Linked DNA regions of Homo sapiens: region 1 is linked to region 2. Evidence: fine-mapped expression QTL. A gene starts in region 2. The other region holds a variant in brackets. All regions are shown on one strand. Distances are from middle to middle.

Region 1 (8,325 bases), 25 kb after region 2:
CTTTGACCATGCCATCGGTATGGAGTGTGGCAACTTTGGAAGCTTTGCAGGTTCCCTTGGTGGAGCAGGAGACCATGCTCCTGGGCATGGCCAGGAAGGCATGCCAAATATTTGTAAGAAATCTCCCATTCAATTTTACATGGAAGATGCTAAAGGACAAATTCAACGAGTATGGCCACATGCTGTACACTGACATCGAAATGGAGAACGGGAAGTCCAAGGGGTGCAGTGTGGTTAAGTTTACGTCCCCAGAGGTGGCTGAGAGAGTCTGCCGGATAATGAACAACATGCAGCTGAATGGCCAAGACTGATGTTCAAATAAATAGAAATGCTTAAGCAGTTGCCTTTTTTAAACATCAATACCAGACCTCTGAATTTGTATTTTTTCTTGTTAACTTTTTTTTTTTTTTTTTGAGACAGGGTTTCGCTCTTGTCTCCCAGGCTGGAGTGCAGTGGCGCGATCTCGGCTCACCACAACCTCTGCCTCCCGGCTTCAAGAGATACTCCTGCCTCAGCCTCCTGAGTAGCTGGGATTACAGGTATGTAATACCATGCCGGCTAATTTTGTATTTTTAGTAGAGACAGGGTTTCTCCATGTTGGTCAGGCTGGTCTCGAACTCCTGACCTCAGGTGATCCGCCCACCCTTGGCCTCCCAAAATGCTGGGATTACAGGCATGAGCCACTGTGCCCGGCCCTCTTGTTAACCTTTTTATTTTTCTTTTCCTTTTTTTTTTTTTTGAGACACAGTCTCACTCTGTCGCCCAGGCTGGAGTATAGTGGTGCAATCTCAGCTCACCGCAACCTCTGCCTCCTGGGTTCAAGCGATTCTCGTGCCTCAGCCTCCCAAGTAGCTGCGACCACAGGCATGTGCCACCACGCCTGGCTAAGTTTTGTATTTTTAGTAGAGATGGGGTTTCACCATGTTGGCCAGGCTGGTCTCGAACTCCTGACCTCAAGTGATCCACCCGCCTTGGCCTCCCAAGTGCTGGGATTACAGGCATGAGCCACCACACTGGCTTTTTTTTTTTTTTTTTTTTTGAGACAGAGTCTCGCTCTGTCGCCCAGGCTCAGTGCAGTGGCGCGATCTCGGCTCACTGCAAGCTCCGCCTCCCGGGTTCACGCCCTTCTCCTGCCTCAGCCTTCCGAGTAGCTGGGACTACAGGCACGCGCCACCGCGCCCGGCTAATTTATTTATTTATTTTTATTTTTGTATTTTTAGTAGAGACAGGGGTTTCACCATGTTAGCCAGGATGGTCTCGATCTCCTGACCTTGTGATCCGCCTGCCTCAGCCTCCCAAAGTGCTGGGATTACAGGCATGAGCCACAGCGCCTGGCAGCTTTTTTTTTTTTTTTTTAATTTAGCATTTTAATTTTTTTTTTTTTTTTTTTTGAGACAGAGTCTCGCTCTGTTGCCAGGCTGGAGTGCAGTGGTGCAATCTCGGCTCACTGCAACCTCCAACTCCCTGGTTTAAGCGATCTTCCTGCCTCAGCCTCCTGAGTAGCTGGGATTACAGACACGTGCCACCACATCCAGCTAATTTTTTTTTCTTTTTTTTTGTATTTTTAGCGGAGACGGGGTTTCACCATGTTGGCCAGGATGGTTTCGAACTCTTGACTTCGTGATCCACCTGCCTCAGCCTCCCAAAGTGCTGGGATTACAGGTGTGAGCTACCGCGCCTGGCCAATCATTTTATTATTTATTTATTTATTTATTTACTTTTGAGAGAGTCTCGCTCTGTTGCCTACGCTGTAGTGCAGTGGCACAGTCTCAACTCACTGCAAACTCTCTCTCTCAGGTTCAAGCAATTCTCCTGACTCAGCCTCCCAAATAGCTATACTACAGGCACTCACCACCACACGGGGCTAATTTTTTTTGTATTTTTAGTTTCACCATGTTGGTCAGGCTGGTCTCACCTGACCTCAGGTGATCCACACACCTTGGCCTCTCAAAGTGCTAGGATTATAGGCATGAACCACCACGCCAGACCACTTGTTAACCATTTTAATTTGTTGGCTGGATGTATAAAGATGTTAAAAAAGCTTGAACCCAGGGAGGCAGAGGTTTCAGTGAGCCAGAGATCGTGCCATTGAGCTCTAGCTGGGCGACAAGAGCAAAACTCTATCTCAAAAAGAAAAAAAAAAAAGAAAAAGATGGTAAAAAAAAAAAAAAAAAAAACCAGTTGCTTTTTGGGCTAATTTAATTACTTTTTTAAATGACTGGTGTTCCATTTGACTGTTTGCCTTGAGATTGCACTGTGCGCAATTTTTTTTGTAGTTATGGTGTCTTCTTGACATTGAATATGATTTTGATAATAAATACTGGTTCTTGAAAAAAAAATTAGCCAGGTGTGCTGGTGCACGCCTATAGTCCTAGCTACTTAGGAGGCTGAGGTGGGAGGATGGCTTGAGCCCAGGAGTTGGAGGATGCAGGTGAGCCCTAATTGTGCCACTACACTGCAGCCTGGGTGACAGACAGAGAGACAGAGAGACCCTGTCTCAAAAATAAATAAATGAGGCCAGGCAAGGTGGCTCAGGCCTGTAATCCCAGCACTTTAGGAGGCCGAGGTGGGCAAATCACGAGATCAAGAAATCGAGACCATTCTGGCCAACATGATGAAACCCTGTCTCCACTAAAAATACAAAAATTAGCTGGATGTGGTAGTGCGCGCCTGTAGTCCCAGCTACTCGGGAGGCTGAGGCAGGAGAATTGCTTGAACCCGGGAGGCGGAGGTTGCAGTGAGCTGAGATCGCACCACTGCACTCCAGCATGGGTGACAGAGCAAGATTCAGTCTCAAACAAAAACAAAAACAGAAAACAAAATTAGCTGGGCCTGGTGGCACATGCCTGTAGTCCCAGCTACTTGGGAGGCTGAGGCAGGAGAATCGCTTGAACCTGGGAGGTGGAGGTTGCAGTGAGCTGAGATCGTGCCGTTGCACTCCAGCCTGACTGACAAGAGCAAAACTTTATCTCAAATAAATAAATAAATTAAATAAATGAAAGTTGCAGACACATGTGAATGACCTGGGCAGCATTTCTCCACCTGCGCTTGCATTTGCTAGACAGTCTGTGACTCTCTGTGGGAGAAAACACAAGAAACCGGCCCCTCTGCTGGTTCCCCACCTGGCCTGGCTCTCCTGTTCTCCACCCTGCACACTCATGCCTCGGAACCTGCTTCTCCTCTGAGCCTCCCTCACAGTGGCCCGGCCCACGTGGCCTTTAATCTGCCCACATCAGAGCCTCCACCTCCGGCCTATGGCCCATCAGAGGCAGCTGGAGCCGGGCATCCTCCCCACGTGGGCCTTTGAGGATGGGATGAAGGAAGCTGAGCGGAGGTCGCAGTGCCTCCCAGGAGGGGCCTGGAGGGGAGGGAACAGGGGAGAGGAGAAGGTTTTTCCACTGTGTCCCCTCCTGTGACTGTAGAAATGAGCCATGTGACTTCAATTACCTATTAACATTTTTTGAAGTGTTCTATAAAAAGTGCCAGCCTCGGGCTACCGTGGGGAGCAGGGAAGGAGGAGGGTGAGTCCAGGCGTGAGGAGGCCGGAGCGGTGACCCGGGAGTGGGGACGGCCGGGGCTGCCAGGCAGTCACAGCCTGTCCCAGAAGGCCCCGTGGTGGAATGCTGTGCAGAAAGTCCTTAGAAGGCTCTGGCGGGGGCGGCCTGTCCCTCAGCACCCTCCTCTCTAAGCCAACTTCAGGGTTTCCCGGAAAGGCATCTCCTCCACCACCTCTGCCCCTACCCAAAATGATCCCCAAATGTCTGGTGGATAAAAACTCTCGATCTTTCCTTCGCACTAGGTCTGTAAGGGTGGGAGCTGACTCACATCTGGCCCTCCACCTCCACCCTTCTCCTCTCTCCTCCCCGCCTCCTTCTCTCTCACCTCTGTCCTCTCCCTTCCTCTCCCTCCTCTCCCTCTTTCCCTCCTATCCCTCCTCCTCCCTCCAACCCCTCCTCCTCCCACTGCCTCTCCCACCCTCCCTCCTTTCAGCGAGACACAACCTCCTCCAGGGCCCCCAAAACACCAACCCTCTCTCTGCTCCACACCTTTGCCCCTGCTGTTCCCTGGTAGATTTCATTTGAATTTCTCTGATGATTCATGACATTGAGCATCTTTTCGTGTGCATTATGGGCCATTTGTATGTCTTCTTTGCAGAAATGTCTATTCAAGTCCTTTGCTCATTTTTGAATCGGGGTGCCTGGAACTCTCTGCCCTCATCCCCGCCCCCGCCACCTCTTCACCAAACCCTGTTTTCTCCTGGAGATCTTGGATCCTTCCTTCATCTAACAAATATTTGCCGGACGTCAACCCTGTGTCGGGCACCCTGCCAGGGATTGGGGAACACAGGGTTAGGAGAGGCTACATTGTAGTGGAGAAGGCAGGAAATAAAGGAGTCAACAGAGACTGCAAACAAGGGAATGTTTTCTTTTCTTTTTTTTTTTTTTCTACAGTGTTCATGGGCTTGATTTAAAAGCTTGCTTATTTATTTATTTATTTATTTATTCATTCATTCATTTATTTATTTTTGAGACAGGGTCTCATTCTGTCACCCAGGCTGGAGTGCAGGGCGTGATCTCCACTCACTGCAACCTCTGCCTCCTGGGTTCAAGTGATTCTTTTGCCTCAGCCTCCTGAGTAGCTGGGATTACAGGCGCCCGCCACCACGCCTGGCTAATTTTTATATTTTTTGGTAGAGACAGGGTTTCCCTGTGTTGGCGAGGCTGGTCTCGAACTCCTGGCCTCAAGTGATCCTCCTGCCTCAGCCACCCAAAGTCTGGGATTACAGACATGAGACACAGTGCCCAGCCAAAAGCTTATCTTTCTTATTTATTTATTTATTTATTTTTGAAACAGAGTCTCACTCTGTC[G/A]CCCAAGCTAGAGTGCAGTGGCACAATCTCAGCTCACTGCAACCTCCACCTCCCAGTTTCAAGTGATTCTCCTGCCTCAGTCCCCTGAGTAGTTGGGATTGCAGGTGTGCACCACCACACCCGGCTAGTTTTTTCTGTTTTTAGTAGAGACAGGATTTCACCATGTTGGCCAGGCTGGTCTCGAACTCCTGACCTCAGGTGATCTGCCCACCTCGGCCTCCCAAACTGCTAGGATTACAGGCTTAAGCCACCGTACCTGGCCTATTTGTTTTTGGAGATGAGGTCTCGCTATTTTCCTCAGGCTGGACTCAAATTCCTGGGCTCAAGTGATCCTCCCACCTCAGCCTCCCAAAATCCTAGTGTTTACAGGTGTGAGCCCCAGCACTTGACATAAGAGAACTATTTTAAAATTTATTTTTAGAGACAGAGTCTCACCCCATCACCCAGGCTGGAGTGCAGCAGTGTGATCATAGCTCACTGCAGCCTTGAACTCCTGGGCTCAAACAATCCTCTCAACTCAGCCTCCTGAGTAGCTGGGACTACAGGCGTGCACCACCATGCCCAGCTAATTTTTTTGATTTTTTTGTAGAGATGAGGTCTCACTATGTTGCCCAGACTGGTCTTAAACTCCTGGGCTCAAGGGATCCTCCTGCTTCAGCCTCCCACAGTGCTGAGATTACAGGCATGAGCCACTGCACCTGGCCAAGACAATTTTTTGAAAGAGCTCAGTGCTGCAAGAAGAATTCGTCTGCAATCTGAGTGAGGATAAGGAACCTGCCTGATGAGGGACTGAGAAGAGAGAAGCTGGCAAAAGAAATAGCAAGTGCAATGAACCAGACGTGAGAATGAACTTGAAGTGGTCAGGAATCAGATGGAGACCAGGGGCCATGGCTCACACCTGTAATCCCAGCACTTTGGGAGGCCAAGGCGGGTGGATCATCTGAGGTCGGGAGTTCAAGACCAGCCTGGCCAACATAGTGGAACCCCGTCTCTACTAAAAATACAAAAATTAGCTGGGCATGTTGGCGGGCGCCTGTAATCCCAACTACTTGGGAGGCTGAGGCAAAAGAATTGCTTGAACCCAGGAGGTGGAGGTTGTAGTGAGCCGAGATCACGCCACTGCACTCCAGCCTGGGCGACAGAGCGAGATTCTGTCTCAAAATAAATAAATAAACAAAAATGAAAAGAATTAGAAGGAACAGGGTGGCTGGATTCAAGGGATTGTGGGGAAGTGTCATCAGATGTGGCTGAAGAGGTAGGTTGAGATGGGCATCATAGACTCTGTGAAGAACTTAAGAACCTCCTCTTCCAGGAAGCCCTTCTTGACTGCATCAACTAGGTTTTCCCATCCCAGCCCTGTTCCCACTAGGTTGTTGCTCTTGGGGCACTGGCCTATCTGCTCCGCTGGCCTGTGAGCCCTCTGACGGCCAGGCCAGTCACCACTATGTCCTCAGCATCACCTAGCACAGGCCTGAGCACACAGGAGGTGGTCGGTAAATGCCCAGGTCATTCTGGCACTGCCAGCAAGCCCCAAGAAGCATCCCTTGCTCTGCCTCCCCGCCGCGCACCTCTGTTCCTGGGCGTAGCACCAGGGATTCCTGAGTTCCCCGTTTGGCCATTCACACTGGTTTCAGCCTAGCCTCTTTCATCCCATCCTCAAAGGCCCATGTGGGGAGGAGGCCGGGATCCAGCCGCCTCTGATGGGCTGCAGGCCGGAGGTGAAGGCTCTGAAGTGGGCAGATCAAACGCCATGTGGGTTGGGCCGCCGTTGGGGAGGCTGAGAGGAGACGCAGGTTCCCAGGCATGAGTGTGCAGGGTGGAGAACAGGAGAGCCAGGCCAGATGGGGACCAGCAAAGGGGCCCATATGTTCACCCGTCTTTATAATAACACAGCTTCCAATTGTTGATTCATTACGGCCAGGTACAGGGTTAATTTTTTTTTTTTTTTTTTTTTTGAGACAGGGTCTCACTCTGTCACCCAGACTGGAGTGCTGTGGTGACATCATGGCTCACTACAGGCGTGTGCTACCATGCCTGGTTTATTATTTTTAAAAATGTTTTGTAGGCTGGGTATGGTGGCTCAAGCCTGTAATCCCAGCACTTTGGGACGCTGAGGCGGACGGATCACCTGAGGTCAGGAGTTCAAGACCAGCATGGCCAACATGGTGAAACTCCATCTCTACTAAAAATACAATAATTAGCCGGGTGTGGTGGCAGGCACCTGGAGTCTCAGCTACTAGGGAGGTTGAGGCAGAAGAATCGCTTTAACCCAGGAGGCGGAGGCTGCAGTGAGCCAAGATCACGCCACTGCACTCCAGCCTGGGTGACATCACGAGACTCTGTCTCAAAATAGAAAAAAATGTTTTGTAGAAACAGGATCTCACTATGTCACCCAGGCTGGAGTGGAGGCACCGTTGTAGCTCAATCCAGCCTCGAACTGCTGAGCTCAAGTGATCCTCCCACCTCAGCCTCCCAAAGTGCTGAGATTATGGGTATGAGCCACCATGCCCAGCTAAAAGTCAATTCTTTTGATAGAAAGGTCAGAAGAGCAGAGAAGATCAAACAGCTGGTTCATGTGCTGATGGGAATGATCTGGATTTCTAGATTCCAGAAGAGAAGCAAGAGAGGAAAGTGGCTGGATTGTTGTCGTTGAGTAAGCAAGAGGGGAACCATCCCTAGGCTCAAGAGAAGAGGTCTTGAGAAAGAGTATATGGCAGCCAGGCGCGGTGGCTCACACCTGTAATCCAAGTACTTTGGGAGGCCGAGGCGGGCGGATCACGAGGTCAGGAGATCGAGACCATCCTGGCTAACATGGTGAAGCCCTGTCTCTACAAAAAAAAAAATTACAAAATATTAGCCAGGTGTGGTGGCAGGCACCTGTAATCTCAGCAACTCAGGAGGCTGAGGCAGGAGAATTGCTTGAACCTGGAAGGTGGAGGTTGCAGTGAGCCGAGATCACGCCATTGCACTCCAGCCTGGGCTACAAGAGTGAGATTCCGTCTCAAAAAAAAAAAAAAAGAAAGAAAGAAAGAGTATAAGGCACTCTGAGAGGCTGAGGCGGGCGGATCACTTGAGGCCAGGAGTTCGAGACTAGCCTGGCCATCATGGCGAAACCCCATCTCTACTAAAAATATAAAAATTAGCTGCTTGTGGTGGTGCGTGCCTATAGTCCCAGCTACTCTGAGGCACGAGAATCACTTGAATCCAGGAGACAGAGGTTGCTGTGAGTAGAGATCACACCACTCCACTCCAGCCTGGGTGACAGAAAAAAAAAAAAGAAAGAAAGAGTGTATAAGGCTGGACACAGTGGCTTATGCCTCTAATCCCAGCACTTTGGGAGGCGGAGGCTTTCAAATCACTTGAGGCCAGGGGTTTGCGACCAGCCTGGCCAACATAGTGAGACCTCACGTCCACTAAAAAAAAAAAATACAAAAAATTAGCTGGACATGGTGGCACA
Region 2 (8,307 bases):
GTGGGAGGATCACTCAAGCCCGAGGAGGTTGAGGCTGCAGTGAACCAAGATCAAGCCACTGCATTCCAGCCTGGGACCGAGTGAGACTCTCTCAAAAAATATATATAGCAGCTAAGCCATCTACAGCACCTACCGTGTGGCAGGCAGGCATTTTGGCCTGTGCTTGACACAAATTAACCCATTTCATCCTCACGACAGCCTTGGGGATAATCACTATTACCCCATTTTACAGAAAAGGAAGCTGAGGCCCAGAAGGGTAAAGAAAATTGCCCAGCTGGGAAATAGCAGAGCTGGGATTTGAACCCAGCCAGCTGGCTCCATAGCCCCAAGCACTCCACATGCTCCCTCTCACCAATGACTGGTGTACAGCCAACGCCATGTGCCCATATACAATCTGTCAAATGTTAATAGTTTGGGTGCAGGTTAAGGTTCAGTAGTATGGGACAGTGTCCATGGATGGCCACCCATGCATCACGGTACAGTAAAATAACGTCATGGTAGAGGAATGAGTTTGGCCGGGTGCGGTGGCTCACGCCAGTAATTCCAGCCTTTTGGGAGGCTGAGGTGGGCAGATAACTTGAGGTCAGGGGTTCGAGACCAGCCTGGCCAACATGGCAAAACCCCGTCTCTACTAAAAACACAAAAATTATCCAGGCGTGGTGGCACACGGAAGGCTGAGGCACGAGAATCACTTAAATCCAGGAGGTAGAGGTTGCAATGAGCCAAGATCGCACCACTGCACTCCAGCCTGAGCAACAGAGACTGTCTCAAAAAAAAAAAAAAAAAGCATGAGTTTATTGGTGTGTGACCACATAGGTGTGTATGTGAGTGTGTATTGTGTGCTCTTGAGCCTGTGTTTAGATGTTGGCGTGGCTGGTGGCATCACTGAATGGCTGTGCTACAGGGGTCTTAGTACACAGTGAGCGTGTGTATGACCGCTGGTATCTGGCCATGTGTTTGTCGAGATGCTACAGCCTCAGCTGAGTGTCTGCGTGAATGTGTCCAGCTGTATGTCATTTGGTTATAAGCCTGTGTGGCAGGCCAAGTGTGAGCTACAGCTGTTTTGGCACGCAGGGGAGGCCTGTGCTCATAAACAGCCTCGGAGTGGGTGTGCCTGCCTGAAGGTCCGCCTGTACCACCCAGGCCCAGGCTGGGCCAGGACCCAGCTAATCTCCCCCAGCCAGAAGGTGCTCCCAGGCTTCAACTCGGGACACCAAGCCTGCCCCAGTCTCGCATCTCAGCCTGCACTGACGCCCCAGAGGCTGGAGAACCCTGTTCCGTGACTCATCATTTCCTTCCCCCAACTTCCAGGAAGTCCCCAACGTGGAGACACTGAATGAGCAAGCCCTAAAGGCAAGCGCAAGGGGGCCTCTGCCCCCCGCCCTCCTCAAAGTGGGGGAGGCCATTCTTGGGGGCGCGGGGCAGAGGCCAGGAGAAGGAAAAGAATCTGCTCCCCTTTCTAACTGGTCCTCTTCTGGGCTGCCTGCTAGGGGGTGGCCCAGACAGAGGAGGAAACGGGAGGGAAAGGCAGGGGTGGCAGGGCTGATCTAAAAGATAAAGGGGAAGCGGCCAGACCCCAGCTGAAATGGGCGGGAAGCGGAGGCCAAAAACAGAGCCTGGTTATGTCCGAGTGACACGTGGTGTGGGGGTGCCCCAGGGCTGGGAAGAGGGCCTGGTGGGAGTTACTCAGATCTCAGATCCTCCAGGGGCTCCTTACCCAAACTCTCCAACCCTGGCCCCAAATTATATCTAGAAGCCCCATCTTGGGGCCCTTGACCACGCAAAGATTCCCCCCGCAAAAGTTCCTCCTGGGGTCCCCTCCCCTCAGTGTCTTTCTCCCCTAGGCAGACCCTCCTATGTCTCCCCAAATCACTTTCTTCTCCCTCTATAAGACCCCACTTATGTACCCAGGCCCCCAGATTTAGAAACCCCTTCCCCAGGAGACTAGACTCACACTCCCGAGGGCTGGAGCCTCCCCTCAATATCCTGTCGAGTTTTCCTAAGACTCTAGAGGGAAGTCTCTGCTCCAGGGGCCCCAAAGCCCCGTCCTGTCCACGTGACCACTCCCGCCATCCGTAACACTCTTCCCCACCTCCCGGGGGAGCGGGAGCTGACCTCGCAAGATCCAGGAACGAATCGAGCACCTCCTTGCTGGGGGCATTTTCGGCACTGCCCGCGGCTCCCACGGAGGCGTTGATGGCGGCGGAGGCGGCGCCCGGCTGCAGAGCCAGCGCCAAGCCCACTCCGAGCGCCGACGCCAGCAGCGTGGTGACCAGGAAAAAGAGCAGCGCCCAGGCGCCCAGACGGCCGAGCGCGCCGGGGTCCAGGCTGGCGGCGCCGCCGATCAAGCTGCACACCACCAGCGGCAAGATGATCATCCGCAGCAGACGCAGCAGCAGCTCGCCCGGGAAGACGAAGGCGCTCAAGCGCTCCGGGCCCAACGCCAGCGCACCCCCGGCCCCCGACACCCCCAGTCCCAGCGCCACGCCGGCCACCACGGCCACCACTGTCAGCAGCACAAGCAGGTTGGCTCGAAGGCAGCGGCGCACCTGGTCCCGGGAACCGCAGTAGCCGCCTGCTGCCGCGCCTTGGTCCTCGATGGAGGCCAGCGCCAGGCCCCCGTTGGCGGTGGGCTCCGCCGCTGCGAGCCCCTTGGAGTCTCGAGGAGGATCGGCCACCATGATGGGAAGCACCGGGGTTTCTTAGCGCCTGGAAGCTGGCTGGGAGCGCTTGGGCTCCTTCCCAGGACCCGACGTTCCTAGGACTGAGTTGAGTAACAGCACCTGGAGACTGGAACTTTGGAGGGCTCCTTAGAGTTGTGAGTTCACAGCACTGAAGTTCCTTGGCTCTTGGAAGCTGGAGTGTTTAAATTCCCCAGGCTGGGCGCTGAGGCTTCTCTGCTCTGCCCCGTGTGCCAGATGTCCGAAAGCTGGGAGTTCGGAGCGCCCGGGTTCCTTGGCCCTAGGAGCTGGGAATACGAGAGTTTCTCTGGGTGGGACGTGGGGCCCTTGGCTCCAGGAGGTTGAGTGCCCCCAGATGGCGGAGGTCTGCAGGAGGCTAGGTTCTGGTGGCGCAGATCCCGGACGCCTGGATCCGGGAGGCGGGGACCCGGGCTGCCTGGGTCTTGGACACTGAGGGCTGGGATGCCAGAATCTGGGGGCCGGGAAGCGGACCTCCGGAAACAGGGGACCCAGGCTCTTAGGTCCGGGAGGGTGGGATGCGGGCCCCTGTGTACGGAAGGCGGTGGTCTGGTGTCCGGGAGTAGCGGTTACCAGCCAGAGAAAGCCTCCCGGGCGTGCCGCGTGGCTCTGAGCCCGTTTAGCGGAAGCTGCCAGGGATAAGGGTAGGGGGCGGGGCTTGAGAAGGCGGGGACCGACCCTCGGGCGCCGATTGGCTGCAGAGCGTTCGGAGACTGGACGAGTAGGGGCGGGGCTGATACCCGAGATGGGCCAGGTCCCCCATAGAAGGCAGATTAATAATACCCATCTCCAGGAGCCGGGCCCAGAGACGACGGGGCGGGGCCAGGAAGGGGCGGGGCCTTGGGAGGGTGCTGTTTCCCGCCAAAGGAACTGGGTTGTGGGTTGGAGCCCTTAAACCACAGGGGTTCGTTCCCTGGTGCGAGGGTCGCTAGAAAGCTCCGGTGGTCCTCGGTGATTCATTTGCAACTCAACTCAGCTTTGGAACTCCTCAGCCCTGAGTTTGGTCTTTAGTCGCCTCTGAGAACTTTAATTCCTCGAATATAAAGTGCAGGTGTTAAAAGCTTTTGTCTCATATGATTGCTGTAAGATTTAAATAAAATTGATGTATTTATTTAGGGAGCCGTGGCTCAAGCCTGTAATCCCACCACTTTGGGAGGTGAAGCGGGCGGATCACTTGAGGTCAGGAGGTCGAGACCAGCCTGGCCAACATGGTGAAACCCGTCTCTACTAAAAATACAAAAATTACCTGGTGTGGTGGCACGTGCCTGTAATCCCAGCTACTGGAAGCCTGAGGCAGGAGAATCGCTTGAACCCCAGAGGCAGAGGAAGTCATTCACCTTGAGGCCACACCTAGAGAGGATGACACGTGCATGCCCACCTCCCAAGCCCCTAACCGCACCCACTCTGCTGCCTCCCCAAATTCTCTGTTAGTGGCCGTTTGGGAGGTTAACAATGAATTATGATTCCTTACTCCACCTGACAGTGTTGAAATCCTCATTCCTTTCCCATCTCTAGCCTGTTCTGTGACATTTCAGGCTTTCATGCTTGCTCAAAGATTGTAGTGGTAATGTCAGAAGCTTCCTCCTACAGCAGCTGTGAGGCCTCAGGTAATTTACAACCTCTATGAGGCTCAGTCTTCATATGTGTAAATGGGAATAATAATAAGTCATACCGCCTTGAGTGTTGCAAGGGTTCAAATGAGATAATACGGCCGGGCGCAGTGGCTCACGCCTGTTATCCCACCACTTTGGGAGTTGATGCGGGCAGATCACTTGAGGTCAGGAGTTCCAGACGAGCCTGGCCAACATGGCAAAACCCTGTCTCTGCTGAAAATGCAAAAATTAGCTGGGTGTGGTGGCACATGCCTGTAATCCCAGCTACTCAGGAGGCTGAGGCAGAAGAATTGCTTGAATCCAGGAGGCAGAGGTTGCGAAGAGCCGAGATCTCACCACTGCACTCCAGCCTGGGTGACAGAGTGAGACTCCACCTCAAAAAAAAAAAAGTTATTTATTTGTGCTTTAAAATTTTTTGTTCTTTCTCTCTTCTTTTGTTTCTAACAAAAATGCCCTTCAGAAGAAAGTCAAATACTACTGCTGCGATTGCTGTTATTGTTATTATTACTGAAGAACAAGCTGGATTCAGTGGCATGCACCTGTAGTCCCAGGTATTTGGGAGGCTAAAGCAGGAGGATCCCTTGAGGCCAGGAGTTCAAGGCTGCAGTGAGCTATGATCGTGCCCACATTTAGCCACTAGACTCCATCCGGGGCAACATAGTGAGACCTTATCTTTAAAAACATGAAAATAGGCCAGGCATGGTGGCTCATGTCTGTAATCTCAGCACTTTGGGAGGCCAGAGTGGGCAGATCATGAGGTCAGGAGATCGAGACCATCCTGGCCAATATGGTGAAACTCTGTCTCTACTAAAAATACAAAAATTAGTTGGGCATGGTGGCATGCACTTGTAGTCCCAGCTACTCAGGAGGCTGAGGCAGGAGAATCGCTTGAACCCGGGAGGTGGAGGTTGCAGTGAGCCAAGATCACACCTCTGCACTCCAGCCTAGTGACAGAGTGAGACTCCGTCTCAAAATAAATAAATAAATATTTTAAAAAATTTTTCGGCCGGGCATGGTGGCTCACGCCTGTAATCCCAGCACTTTGGGAGGCCGAGGCGGGTGGATCACAAGGTCAGGAGATCGAGACCATCCTGGCTAACACGGTGAAACCCCGTCTCTACTAAAAATACAAAAAATCAGCCAGGCATGATGGCGGGCGCCTGTAGTCCCAGCTACTCGGGAGGCTGAGGCAGGAGAATGGTGTGAACCCGGGAGGCGGAGCTTGCAGTGAGCCGAGATCACGCCACTGCACTCCAGCCTGGGCGACAGAGCGAGACTCCGTCTCAAAAAAAAAAAAAAAAAAAATTTCACAGTGGCTTACACCCTTAATCCCAGCACTTTGGGAGGCCAAGGTGGGAGGCTCACTTGAGCCCAGGAATTTGAGACCAGCCTGGGCAACATGGCGAGACTCCGTCTCTACAAAAAAATTAAAAAATAAGCTGAGTGTGGTGGTATGCGCCAATAGTCCCAGCTACTTAGGAGGGTGAGGCGGGAGGATCGCTTGAGCCAGGAGGTCAAGGCTACAGTGAGCTGTAATCTCACCACTGCACTCCAGCTTAGGTGACAGAGCAAGACTCAGTCTAAAGGGAAAAAAGATTTAGGCTGGGAGCGGTGGCTCACGCCTGTAATCCCATCACTATGGGAGGCCAAGGCAGGTGGATCACTTGAGGTCAGGAGTTCAAGACCAGCCTGGCCAACATGGTGAAACCCCATCTCTACTAAAAATACAAAAACATGAAAATAGGCCAGGCACAGTGTCTCATGCCTGTAATCCCAGCACTTTGGGAGGCCTAAGTGGGCAGATCATGAGGTCAGGAGATGGAGACCATCCTGGCCAATATGGTGAAACCCTGTCTCTACTAAAAATACAAAAATTAGTTGGGCGTGGTGGCGGGCGGCTGTAGTCCCAGCTACTTGGGAGGCTGAGGCAGGAGAACTGCTTGAACCCAGGCGTCAGAGGTTGCAGTGAGCGGAGATCACACCACTGCACTCCAGCCTGGGCAACAGAGTGAGACTCTGTATCAAAAAAAAAAACAAAAAAACAAAAAATTCCTTGGCTGCTAGAGCTTGCATTCTAGTGCAGAGAGACAAGACAATAAACTTGGGCTTGGCCGGGTGCAGTGGCTTACACCTGTAATCCCAGCAGTTTGGGAGGCCGAGGCGGGCGGATCACTTGAGGTCAGGAGTTCAAAACCAGCCTGGCCGACATGGTGAAACCCCATCTCTACTAAAAATACTAAAAAATTAGCCGGGTGTGGTGGTCCACGCCTGTAATCCCAGATACTCGGGAGGCTGAGGCAGGAGAATCGCTTGAACCTGGGAGGCAGAAGTTGCAGTGAGCTGAGATCTCACCATTGCACTCCAGCCTGGGCAACAGAGCCAGACTCTGTATCACACACACACACACACACACACACACACACACAAAATCCTTGGCTGCTAGAGCGTGCATTCTAGTGCGGAAGAGACAAGACAATAAACTTGGGCTGTCAGCTGGAACTAAGCGTTGGGAGAAAGCAAAAGCATCCTATGAGTGACAGAGTGAACAGTTCAGCCACTGGAAGGAAGTGACATCTGCACTGAGATCTGAAAGATAAGAAGGAGCCCATGGCATAATGTGGAAACATTCAAAGGACGCGTGTGAAGCCCTGAGGCAACAGAGAGGTTTCCATCTCTGTTAGCAGTGCTCACAGACATGGTTTTATCCCCACTAATCCAGGAGACCAGCTCACACTCCCATTTTCCTGATTTGGAAGCAGATAAGGGTAATGAGGCTTGCTGTGGCCCAAACCCCAGGCATAAGCAAGAAATCTGAACTCAGATGTTTCTGATCCTTGTCTGCATCTCCTATCAGACACCCTGGCTACCCCTGCACTCGGCTGTCTCCAACTAGACATTTCCTTCAAGGGACAGTCATGTATTCTGAGCCCAGTGTTGGGTCCTGCGATGGGTGATACCAGGGACCCAGTGGCGAACAAGACAGTTCTGGCCCCGTTCTGCTGGGACTCAAAGTTCAGGGGGGGACACAGATAGTGATGATACAGAGTGGGCAGGGCTGGGATGGGGGAGCCCAGAAGGGATGCTTGACCAGGCTTGGGGGTCAGGGAGAGCTTCCTGGAGGAGGAGGCATCGGAGCTGGGATATGAAGGAGTTGGACCAATCCCAGGGAAAGAATATTCCAGACAAAGAGAATAGCACATGCAAAATCCCAGACTTCTGGCCAGGCATGGTGGCTCACGCCTGTAATCCCAGCACTTTGGGAGACTAATGCGGGTAGATTGCTGGAGACCAGGAATTCCAGACCAGCCTGGCCAACATGGCAAAACCCTGTCTCTTCTGAAAATAAAAAGTAAAAAAAATAGCCAGGACTAATGGCACACGCCTGTAATCCCAGCTATTCTGGAGGCTGAGGCAGGAGAATCACTTGAACCCAGAAGGCAGAGGTTACGGTGAGCCAAGATTGCACCACTGCACTCCAGCCTGGGCAATAAAGCAAGACTCTGTCTAAAAAAAAAAAAAAAAAAAAAATCCCAGACTTCAGAAGAGTCTGGAATATTTCAAAGCACAGATCTAACTGGGCCACCCCTACTCTCTGAACAGCCCCAGTGGCCTCCCTCAGGATGAAAACCACTCTTCAGCTAGGCATCTGTCCGCTTGGTGATTCATTTATTCATTCATTCAACAAACCACATCCACAGAATAGAAGACTGAGAGACATCAAATAGAAGGAGACGGATGCCCATGAGCTGACATGGGATCGTTGTGATGACTCATCTGGCCAATATTTATCAAACACTGAGAAAAACAGATGAGGAGCCGGGAGCAGTGGCTCACTCCTGGAATCCCAGCACTTTGGAAGGTTGAGGTGGGTGGATCTCTCAAGGCCAGGAATTCAAAACCAGCCTGGCCAACATGGTGAAACCTCATCTCAACTAAAAATACAAAAATTAGCGGGGCGTGGTGCTACCTACCCGTAATCCCAGCTACTCGAGTGG

What was found. PIP is the estimated chance that this variant, and not a neighbour inherited with it, causes the effect.
Region 1: its variant is fine-mapped to the expression of SLC1A5 in whole blood (INTERVAL, PIP 0.98).

Annotation. Positions count from the first base shown.
Region 1 is chr19:46,809,847-46,818,171 of GRCh38, forward strand. It overlaps the pseudogene HNRNPMP2. Among named protein-coding and RNA genes, the nearest start is that of SNAR-E, 17 kb to the right of the region's middle. The variant G/A (reference allele first, on the strand shown) is at 4,869.
Region 2 is chr19:46,785,285-46,793,591 of GRCh38, forward strand. SLC1A5 (solute carrier family 1 member 5) reads right to left here and starts at 3,310. Exons shown (of 8, transcript NM_005628.3): 1 at 2,116-3,310. The coding sequence starts at 2,681. RefSeq lists enhancers at 1-569, 570-1,171, 2,978-3,579, 3,228-3,522 and silencers at 2,388-2,437, 2,448-2,497, 3,468-3,627.